Homo sapiens: one gene and its partners. The protein of the gene in region 3 purifies or fractionates together with the protein of the main gene of each other region. This does not show direct contact. Each region holds a gene or a part of one and is shown on either strand. Other genes may lie near its edges.

Region 1 (3,651 bases), on a different chromosome or scaffold from region 3:
ATATTTAAAAGCTTCCCAGGATGTTCTGCAGCCTGGCACTTCACACAGCCCATTTTTAGCACCCCCCTTCCTCTATATCACAACCGCTTCAATTACTCAGCTGACACCAATTTCCCACAGCTGACCCTCTCAATCCCTTATTGGAGACACTCACTGGGTAGTCCCCAGGGGGGCCCCAGTTCCCGGCGGGGCCCCGGTGAGGTGGGGGTAGGGGAGGCTTTGGGGCAGGAGGTCCCGGCTCTGTCTCTGGAGGCCGAGAGGTTTCTGCCCAGGCCGTCTTAGGAGTGGGCGGTTCGCTGTTGGGGGAGTTGCCCTTTTTGCCATCTGCTTCAGGGGGCCGTTCCTCACCAGAAGCTGATTGGGAATCCCTGCTGTGAGCAGATCAACAGTGAAATTAAAATCAGCTGCAACTAATATACTCCTCTAAGAGTATATTACCAAAATACAAACCAAGACCCCCTCCTCTTCTCCCCTGATGGCCCTAACTCACTGGCCCTCAGCACCCTCCTCATCAGAGTCTCGCCCATCTTCCTCATCGCTGAACTTGAGCTTTTCAGTGTAGTCAACCTCTTCATGGGCCCCTGAGGGGAAATATGAGTATTAGTAACCCAAGCATTCTGCCCTCCAATCTTGGGAGGTAGTCTGGAACTATGTAACAAGATGGACTACCAATGCCAATATCCTTCCCTCCGAAGTCTAGATCCACCAATGAAGTCTTGTCATTCTTACTCCTCTCACCACTTTGCAAGGACTTGGTATTCCCCATCCATCCTCCCCTACTCTTTTTTTTTTTTCCTTTTAAAAGTCTCGCTCTGTTGCCCAGGATGGAGTTCAGTGGCACGATCATAGCTCACTGTGACCTCCAACTCCTGGGCTCAACTGATCCTCCCACCACAACCTCCAGAGTAGCTGGGACCACAGATGCACAGTCCACACCCAACTAAAAAATTTTTTTTTTTTTGTAGAGGTGGGGGGTCTTGCTGTGTTGCCCAGGCTGGTCTTGAACTCCTGGCTTCAAGCGATCCTCTCACCTAACACTCCCAAAGCACTGGGATTACAGATGTGAGCCATTGGGCCTGGTCTTCCTACACTTCAATGTCTGCCTTTCACCCACATAACCCTGTATTTTTTTTTCCTCATTAGGTTTTGCCTTTCAAGATCCAAATTCTTGACCCTTAATATCCACTTACCTGCCCAACCATCATCATTCTCCTGATCCAACTGATCAAACTCTTTGAGATTATCCTCTTTGAGAATAGAGGGACGACCCACAGGCTCTACTAAGCGCATTGGTGGCCCTGAGCCTCGGGGGCCCGCCACACGGGGAAAACGGCTGTACACAAAAAAGAAAATGAAATATGGCATGTTGTATAACCACATGCGAGACTGATCCTAGACTGAGCCTCCTGGCTAGAAAACCATCTCCTCCCCCAATAAGCTTCCCCTGCCCCCAGCCACAAACCCAGACCTGGATTGCTCACCTGGGCCCATCAGGAGTGGGGTATCGGTAAGGCCCCTGGGGTCCATAGGGCGGAGGGAACGGGAGATATGGGGGATACATCTGTAAAAGGGTCCAACAGTAGCTGCTCAGAGGGACAGTCATATACCCTTCTAGCTCCTTAAGCCTGCTATCAATCATCCTCCCACCCTCCCTTCTATCTCATAGGTCAAAGACTAAGTCCTGATTCCTAGCTCTCCAGCTTCCAGTGTAATCGTTCCAAGACAAGACACCAAGACTCACGAAAGGCGGCATCATTCCGCGGTAGGGAGGGAACTGGGGTGGGCCTGAAGGCTGTAGCCCACCCCGGGGATCATGACCATGATGAAGTTTGGAGTCCGGGCCCTCCAGCTCATCAGGGCCACGCCCACCTCCGTCCCTCCAAGTTGTAGAATCTGTATTTTGGAAAAGGTAGAGAGAGGTATCAATGATTGGAGGACAAGTGAACACAGCTGAAAGTGATGGGGAGGAAGGTGAATAAGCCAGCACCTAGCTCTGAGATGCAATAGGTAATGTCTTGGCCAAAAGGCAGCCACTCACTTTGGGGGCGGAGGCTTGGTCCGGGCCCAGACGACTGTTCGGCAGACTCCCTTTCCTTGGCAGCCTTGTCCTGGTCGCCAGCCGCCTGCAGGGTCGGAAATTCCTCTCGAGAGAATCGTGACAGTAGGCTTGATGCCCTTCCACCTATTAGGATGGGGATGCAGAACAGGAGACAGAAGACATTTCCTGAGGACATGCTATAAAAGTGGAAGACTCTGGCTGGGCGCGGTGGCTCACGCCTGTAATCCCAGCACTCTGGGAGGCTGAGGCGGGCGGATCACGAGGTCAAGAGATCGAGACCATCCTGGCCAACATGTGAAACCCCATCTCTACTAAAAACACACAAAAAATTAGCTGGGTGTGTTGGCGTGTGCCTGTAGTCCCGCTACTCTGGAGGCTGAGGCAGGAAAATCGCTTGAACCCAGGAGGCAGAGGTTGCAGTGAGCCGAGATTGCGCCACTGCACTCCAGCCTGGGTGACAGAATGAGACTCCGTCTCAAAAAAAAAAAAAGTGGAAGGCTCTGACAGGTACCAGACCATCAGGTTTCCCGCCTTCAAACTCACCCCCCTACAGAATAACTGCTTATTCCCCAAGGAGGTCAGTTCTGGCACCACTACACTCCATCATATAAGACTGAGACTTAAACTTGCTCATGTGCCTCCATGAAACTGAATATGGGTGGTCCTTGATTTAGCCAAAGAGGACCAAGGTCACTTGGCTGAAAATACAGTGCAGGGTTCATGCATCCCATGGTGCCCAGACACAGCTCCCCAATTAAGTGCTGCACTCACCATCTCCATGTGCTCCATGGGTGACGCTGGCTTGTGCCCAGGACTTTACCCCGCTTGGAACCAAAGGAGTGTTCTGGGGAAGTGTTCAGAAAGATGATAAATGATGTGGGTGGGGCAGCTATGAACCATTCTTCCTCCCCACCCCTCCAGTTCTCCAGGTACCTCGGGGGCTGCTGGGGGTCGTTTCGGCTGGTTGGAGGCAGGCGTCTGTGAAGCCGGCAGTGGCTGCGATTCCGGCGGCTGAGCGGTTGAGGCATCGGAACTGAGGGGACAGAATGGGAAGGTTATTCACACCTGAGATGCCTCCCTGACTTCTCCAACTGGTGGAGACTCAGGACTGAAATCATGCCCATTGCTACCATTTACAAATATAAGGACAAATTAATTTTGTCATCCTTTGTAGGCTGTTGTCTATTTTTTCATGCTCTCTCTCCAAGACAAAAAGCTAAAGTTTAGTACCATTCCTTAGTCATTTAACAAGGAACCTGCAATAGGTAAGAAAGGGACCTCTTCGTCTCTGGCTCAGACGTGGCTGGACTAAACCAAGCCCCAATGCTCCCTGAAGTTCAAGTTAAAATACCCATCACTCTAGGTCCCCCAAGCCTCTGTCTACCTCTTGGGGTCGGACTGCTCCTGTTTGCTTGCCCATCCTGTTCCGTCTTTTGGCACTAGTGAGACATTGGGGTCATTGCCTTTGTTCTCGGCTTTCAGGCTTGGAAGGTTGGCTGGAGGTGGCATACGCCGGGCAATGGCAACTTTCCCGAGACTCTGCAGGCCATGGCGAGGGGCAACTGGAGAACAAGACGGAGAGAGGGTCGAAA
Region 2 (3,651 bases), on a different chromosome or scaffold from region 3:
CTTCAGGAGTTTATTTATGGCCAATCTTGTTTTACCCATCACTAGCCACTTTTCCCTTTCCTATTATTTTGAAACAAATTCCAGGCATAATATTTTATCAATAAATGTTATTTCTAAAAGATGATTCTTAAAAACAGTACCATAATGATACACACATACACATTCCTAAATACTAAAAATCCTGACAGTGTTCAGATTGTAATTGTTTCATTAATGTTAATTAATTTTTTGCTGTGTGAATCAATCCAAATGAAGTTCAGACATTGAAATTGGTCTTGTAAGTTGTGTTTTGTTTCTTAATAAATTCCCTCACCATCTTGTTTTATGTTTCCTTGAAATGTATTTCTCAGAAAAGGTAGGTCATTTGTCATGTAGCATTTTCTATAATTGAACATACTGGATTTTACTAATTGAGTCCTTACTGTGTTATGTAATGTTGATCAGATGCAGTTGTGACTTGAAATTCCTTTTAATGAAAACAGGAGTCACACAGGACAAGTTGTCTCTGTGTTTTGCAGCAGCCATGGGTTATCAGTGCCTCACAAGAAGTTGTAAAACGATATTTTAACACTATAATTTCTTTTTCATTTATTCCTGGAATGCTTCTGACAAAGAGCTATTTCCCTTCATTCATTTCATTAGCCAGTGGTGCAGTTTGTACCACAAAGGCAAGATAAATGCTTTATACTTTATGAGTATCACTGTGAACTAATGTATTTCTAATATAATCTGATATATCTCAATTTATTGTAGTTCTCATGTATATATCAATATTGTCCCATCTTTGGCCCCAGTTAGCCTCTTCAAATCCACCATGATTTGAATGAGTATACCTTTAGATGGGTCAAGCTCCTCCCAATTTGTAGTATCTTCTTCTAATTCTTGTTATGTTACACCTTCTAGCTTCACTTATTTATATTAATTGATCCTTTAAACTCTGAGTTTTTTTTTTTTTACCCTTTTTAAAGTTACTGCTTCCTTAACTGAAATAAAATTTCAATTTAAAATGACTTTTTGTAGAGTCCCCAAAACATTCTATTCATCATGGGCAATTGACTTCCCTCTGTTATGAGTCTCCTCTTGAGCTAAATTTCTTAATTATTAGAAGACTGCTTGGGCACTGAAATATAAGCCCATGCCAGTGAAATCCATTTCTTATCTCTCCATGTTGCTGTAAAGCAGTTTTTCTGTTATTTCCCTGCACTAGTTCTGCCAATCTTGATAATAAGAGGGAAAGTGGAAAACTACAAGATTAGAACATGGGACTCTTCATTGTTATTCTGTGCTTTTAAAAAAAATTCTTATTCAGATGTTTGTTAACATTAGTTTAGCATTTTAGACTCACCTATTTTTTAAAGTTCTTTGGATTAATAGATAAAACTTTGACCAGTGAATTCTGGAGATCTGGACTCTAATCCTGAGTCTTGACTCCTTTCCTGTACTTCCCAGTTCACATAGCTGGATGATCTAAGTGCTAAATACTGAACTTAGTGAGAATCTGCAGAAAATTTAAATCTCCTTCCACAAAGTTTGTCTAAAAATTGTTGATCAAAACCTTTTTGTTTTTATTAAAGTTAAGAAAGAAGAAAAGAAAAGGCATAAATCATCATCATCTTCCTCCTCCTCATCTAGTGACTCAGATAGCTCAAGTGATTCTCAGTCCTCTTCTGATTCCTCTGATTCCGAAAGTGCTACTGAAGAGAAATCAAAGAAAAGAAAAAAGAAACATCGGAAAAATTCCCGAAAACACAAGAAAGAAAAGAAAAAGCGAAAGAAAAGCAAGAAGAGGTCTTAATTTTACTTTTCTAATGCTAGCTTTATATTCTGATTTCCTTTCTGTAAATCTGTTAGGATTTTGGGTCAATTATATGAAACTGTTAAAATAGTGAGAAATATAGCATGGAGCGTAGGACTTTTGATATTCCACAGTCTATAGATTAAATTTTGGGTACGTTCATTTTCTTTTGAAAGAAAACCTATCAGTTCATTTTTTTGTGTACTCAATGAAATAATACAGCTTTGGTGTTACAGATTTGTGTGTTTTATAGGAGGATTATGGGATTTATGAAAATTGCAGAAAACCACCAGTTGTTTTTCCTATTTTCAGTAGCAGTCCCCTTTGCTCTTACGATAGCATAAGGATAGAAAGCAGATAATGTCAGTGTATTTTACTTTCTTTTCCATTTTGCTTGAAATAATCTGTGTTTGTACTAAAACTTGTCTTCATCTGCCTATGGCTCAAATGCAGTTAATTTCTTTACCCATGTTTTAAAGTATTTTAAATTTATCAGAGTGCATTGCTCACATAGTTTCATATTTTTTATCCATTTTGTAGGAAAATATTTTTTGAGAGTGTGATAATCGAAACGTTTTGTTTTGTTTGTTTTTTGATTGGTTAGTTGGTTTGTCAGAGGAATAGAAGATTTTTCCCATGCGATCACATCTTTGGTAAGGACAGGATGTTTATATTATAGTGATATAAAGGAAAGAAATACCAACAATTGGATACTTCCGTAAGGACATAATAACCAACTGTAACTTGTTTTGTGTGTTTCTGTCTGTTAAGTGCATCTAGTGAGAGTGAAGCTGAAAATCTTGAAGCACAACCCCAGTCTACTGTCCGTCCAGAAGAGATCCCTCCTATACCTGAAAATAGATTCCTAATGAGAAAAAGTCCTCCTAAAGCTGATGAGAAGGAAAGGAAAAACAGAGAGAGAGAAAGGGAAAGAGAGTGGTATGTGAATATGTATATTTTGCCTTACATGGTTTACCATAGAACTTTTCTTTTTAAAAAGTTATTTATTTTAAACAAGATTTAATTGGTGACCTTGTCCCAAGATTGAAATCTTTTTTATAAAATGTTCTTCCGCAAAGTTCTTTTTTGCCAACCACATAACTAGAAAGGGAAATTGACTTAAATTACAAGTAGGTTCTGAAGTAAAGTTACACATAATAAACACTAATACAAAAAAGAGATGTTAAGCAGCATTCCAAGCCAATAACAAGATACTCTTTAACCAGTAAAACAAGATAGTGTTTTATAGTGTTATTTGTGTACAGTAAACTCTTAAGCAAGTAAGAATCTTGGTTTTTCAGTTTGTCTAATAGGAAAAACTGCTGTTTTCCTTACTTGGTTTACAACATTGTAATAAAAATTGATGTCATGTTCAAATCCTGAAAAAAGTTTACTACATAAATCTACATTATTAATATCTGTAATGCTAATGGTTCTTTATCAGTCATTTTAATAACTATGTCCAGGCTGGGCGCAGTGGCTCACGCCTGTAATCCCAGCACTTTGGGAGGCTGAGGCGGGCAGATCACGAGGTCAGGAGATGGAGACCATCCTGGCTAACATGGTGAAACCCCATCTCTACTAAAAATACAAAAAATTAGCCGGGTGTGGTGGCGGGTGCCTGTAGTCCCAGCTACTCAGGAGGCTGAGGCAGGAGAATGGCATAAGTAAACCTGGGAGGCGGAGCTTGCAGTGAGCCGAGATCACGGCACTGCACTCCAGCCTGGGTGACAGAGTGAGACTCCGTCTCAAAAATAATAATAATAATAATAACTATGTCCAAAAGTAGAAAAAGGAATATTGAAATATTTTTCTTAGTTATGATCAGAAATACATTGTCATAATACAAGTAATAA
Region 3 (3,651 bases):
GGGATTACGAGCGTGAGCCACCTCGCCCAGCTTTTTAAAGAGACCCCGTCTTTTAAAAAAAAAAAAAAAAAAAGAAAGGAAGGCTTTAAACCTTTAATCCATCTTGAGGGGGAAAAAAATAGAGAGGCTTGCATGTCTGACTCTTGGGATGCAGTCTCATAGAAAGCATGTAGCATGCTAGGCTGGGCACGGTGGCTCACTCCTGTAATCCCAGCACTTTGGGAGGCCGAGGCGGGCGGATCACGAGGTCAGGAGATCAAGACCATCCTGGCCAACACAGTGAAACCCCTTCTCTACTAAAAATACAAAAAAAATTAGCTGGGCGCCTGTAGTCCCAGCTACTCAGGAGGCTGAGGAAGGAGAATGGCATGAACCAGAGAGGCAGAGCTTGCAGTGAGTCAAGATCGCACCACTGCACTCCAGCCTGAGCGACAGAGCGAGACTCCGTCTCAAAAAAATAAAATAAAATAAAATAATAGATAAAAAAAGAAAGCACGTGGCATACTCACTAACAAAACATCCTTCAGTATCACCAATAATAAAGCTAACATGGAGGCGGCAGACAACGGGTCTGCCTTGTATGGTGATGTTTATTTTGACGAAAGATTGACTTTTCTCCTTTATCATTCTTACTCTGAAGTCAGATGGGACTCACGTTATGGTCGGTTACATAGAAGACTTAGAGATAGGACAATAGTGGTTCTAGAAGCCAAATTTGCACTTAAAATCACTGTCACTGAAAATCTGACAACTTTTACCTCATTCACTCTGTTTTTTCTTTTTTTTTTTTGAGGCGGAGTCTCACTCTGTCGCCCAGGCTGGAGTGCAGTGGCACGATCTCAGCTCACTGCAACCTCTGCCTCCCAGATTCAAGTAATCCTCCTGCCTCAGCCTCCCGAATAGCTGGGACTACAGGGGCACGCCACCACGCCCGGCTAATATTTTTGTATTTTTAGTAGAGACAGGTTTTCATCATGTTGGCCAGGCTGGTCTCAAACTCCTGACCTCAAGTGATCCACCCGCCTCCTCCTCCTCCTCCCGAAGTGCTGGGATTACAGGTATGAGCCACCGCACCTGGCCTCATTCACTCTTCTAAGTTGTGGGTGTTGTCCTTTAAAATATATAGTTTCCACAAACTAAGCATTGTAGCTGAAAAATGAATGGCAGCTATCAGAAAAAATGCTTTAAACTAATCAAGGCTTTGTTGTTCAAAGAAAAAGCTACTACCAAAGGAAGCAGACCCTAAAACCTGAAGTACAACAAAGTATGAAGTACAAATTGATTTCCATTATAAAAAACTCAACTGTCAAGAAAGATATGACATTAGAAAACCTCATGAGGCCGAGCGCGGTGGCTCATGCCTATAATCCCAGCACTTTGGGAGGCCGAGGAGGGCGGATCACCTTAGGTCAGAAGTTCGTGACCAGCCTGGCCAACGTGGTGAAACCCCGTCTCTACTAAAAATACAAAAATTAGCCGGGTGTGGTAGCGCACGTTTGTAATCCCAGCTACTCGGGAGGCTGAGGCAGGAGAATTGCTTGAGCCCGGGAGGCGGAGCTTGCAGTGAGCTGAGATGGAGCCATTACATTCCAGCCTGGGCAACAAGAGCGAAACTCAGTCTCAAAATAAAAAAAAAAGAAAACCTCATGAGGCCAGGCGCGGTGGCTCATGCCTGTAATCCCAGCACTTTGGGAGGCAGAGGTGGGTGGATCACCTGAAGTCAGGAGTTTGAGACCAGCCTGGCCAACATGATGAAACCCCATCTCTACTAAAAATACAAAAAAAATTAGCCAGGTGTGGTGGCGGGCGCCTATAATCCCAGCTACTCAGGAGGCTGAGGCAGGAGAGTTGCTTGAACCCAGGAGACAGAGGTTGCAGTGAGCAGAGATAGCACCATGCACTCCAGCCTAGGCAACAGAGTGAGACTCCGTCTGAAAAAAAAAAACCTCACATGAAGCAAAATTCAGCACTTACTTTTCAATGTGAGAGCTCCCAAAAGAGTCCCTGCTTAAGCACACTGAGGATAGGCTTGGGTTCTATGATTACCCTCTTTGGATGTAGCTTTTCAGCTTTGCCAAGGAGGCAGGGAAAAATACTACTGGCCATTCCCCTGGATGCCCAACATCAAGCAGAGCTGAAATATCACATTCATTAAGTCCTTCCACAATATTCCACATGGCTGCTAAATCCAGTGTGTCAGGCGTTTTTTACTCCACAACCTGTGTTCTCTTCTGTACCTTCTACTGGTCTAACACTACTGACCAGGAAGGGCACCAAAGTTTCCGGAACCTTCAGAAAACACAGTTCTGGCCGGGCGCAGTGTCTCATGCCTGTAATCTCAGCACTTTGGGAGGCCAAGGTGGGTGGATCACGAGGTCAGGAGCTCCAGACTAGCCTGGTCAACATGGTGAAACCCCGTCTCTACTGAAAATACAAAAGTTAGCCGGGCGAGGTGGTGCATGCCTGTAATCCCAGCTACTCGGGAGGCTGAGGCAAGAGAATGGCTTGAACCTGGGAGGCAGAGGTTGCGGTGAGCCACGATCACATCACTGCACTCCAGCCTGGGCAACAAGAGCGAAACTCCGTCTCTTTTTTTTTTTTTTTTTGAGACAGAGTTTTGCTCTTGTTGCCCAGGCTGGAGTGCAATGGCTCGATCTCGGCTCACCACAACCTCTGCCTCGCGGGTTCAAGTGACTCTCCTGCCTCAGTCTCCTGAGTAGCTGGGATTACAGGCATGCGCCACCACACCCAGCTAATTTTGTATTTTAATAGAGACAGGGTTTATCTATGTTGATCAGGCTGGTCGCCAACTCCCAACCTCAGGTGATCCACCCGCCTCGGCCTCCCAAAGTACTGGGATTACAGGCGTGAGCCACCGCACCCAGCCTGAAATTCTGTCTCAAAAAAAAAAAGAAAAGAAAAGAAAAGAAAAGAAATACTCTCACTCAGATTATTTTTCTCACCAGTATTCTGCAGCTATGCTACACAGGGTCTGGCCAAGGAAAACATGGTTGAAATCTTCCCGAGAGTGCACATCTATCTGCTCCCTCTGACTTCCTTCACTATGGGTTTATCAAGAATTCCAAGTTGTGCATCCTATGAAAATACCCTACAGTGAAACTTCCTTTGACGAGTTGAAATCATTAATCTGTATTGACCTCGGTACACACAACAATCTGCATCAAACAGTAACGTTTTCCCATCCCAGGCCAAACAGCAGACAACACCCCAAGGAACAGAGGCACAAGGTTTGGCATTCATTTCGCATTTGCTGTCAGAAAACTCAGCTTGAGAAGTTTTAATACATCTGAGCGGTTTTCCAGAAGGTGCTCCTCCCTAATATAAGCAATGATTCATCATGAAGAAAACTTCCTTTAACATATGCACATTTCATCCTTAAAATGAGAGGATAGTTTTTAACCTCCGTGAGGTAGCTGTGAAACCTTAAAATGGGGGTGGTCTCTACAGGACTCCTTTTCTCTCAGTGGCGTAATCACCACAGATAACCTTCCACTATTCAGTCTTTTCAAATTCTTACTTCGAATAAATGCACATTATACAAAGCTAGCGTTTATCTGTTTTGTTCATCTGAAGTGAACTTAAAATTGTAGGGTTCTATATTCATTAGATAGCATGTTGATTTCTTGAAGG

What was found.
Region 1: the proteins of LUC7L (region 3) and PRRC2A purify together in Homo sapiens (affinity purification with mass spectrometry; 2 studies listed by BioGRID and IntAct, with this or other methods). This does not show direct contact.
Region 2: the proteins of LUC7L (region 3) and PPIG purify together in Homo sapiens (affinity purification with mass spectrometry; 3 studies listed by BioGRID and IntAct, with this or other methods). This does not show direct contact.

Annotation. Positions count from the first base shown.
Region 1 is NC_000006.12:31,623,702-31,627,352, reverse strand, and holds part of PRRC2A (protein PRRC2A), read right to left. Parts: intron 3,622-3,651; coding exon 3,444-3,621; intron 3,093-3,443; coding exon 2,993-3,092; intron 2,904-2,992; coding exon 2,831-2,903; intron 2,183-2,830; coding exon 2,039-2,182; intron 1,894-2,038; coding exon 1,742-1,893; intron 1,562-1,741; coding exon 1,482-1,561; intron 1,334-1,481; coding exon 1,191-1,333; intron 582-1,190; coding exon 491-581; intron 372-490; coding exon 155-371; intron 1-154. UniProt on the Homo sapiens protein: May play a role in the regulation of pre-mRNA splicing.
Region 2 is NC_000002.12:169,629,200-169,632,850, forward strand, and holds part of PPIG (peptidyl-prolyl cis-trans isomerase G), read left to right. Parts: intron 1-1,574; coding exon 1,575-1,788; intron 1,789-2,399; coding exon of another isoform or gene 2,400-2,448; intron 2,449-2,566; coding exon 2,567-2,734; intron 2,735-3,651. UniProt on the Homo sapiens protein: PPIase that catalyzes the cis-trans isomerization of proline imidic peptide bonds in oligopeptides and may therefore assist protein folding. May be implicated in the folding, transport, and assembly of proteins.
Region 3 is NC_000016.10:222,898-226,548, forward strand, and holds part of LUC7L (putative RNA-binding protein Luc7-like 1), read right to left. Parts: intron 1-3,651. UniProt on the Homo sapiens protein: May bind to RNA via its Arg/Ser-rich domain.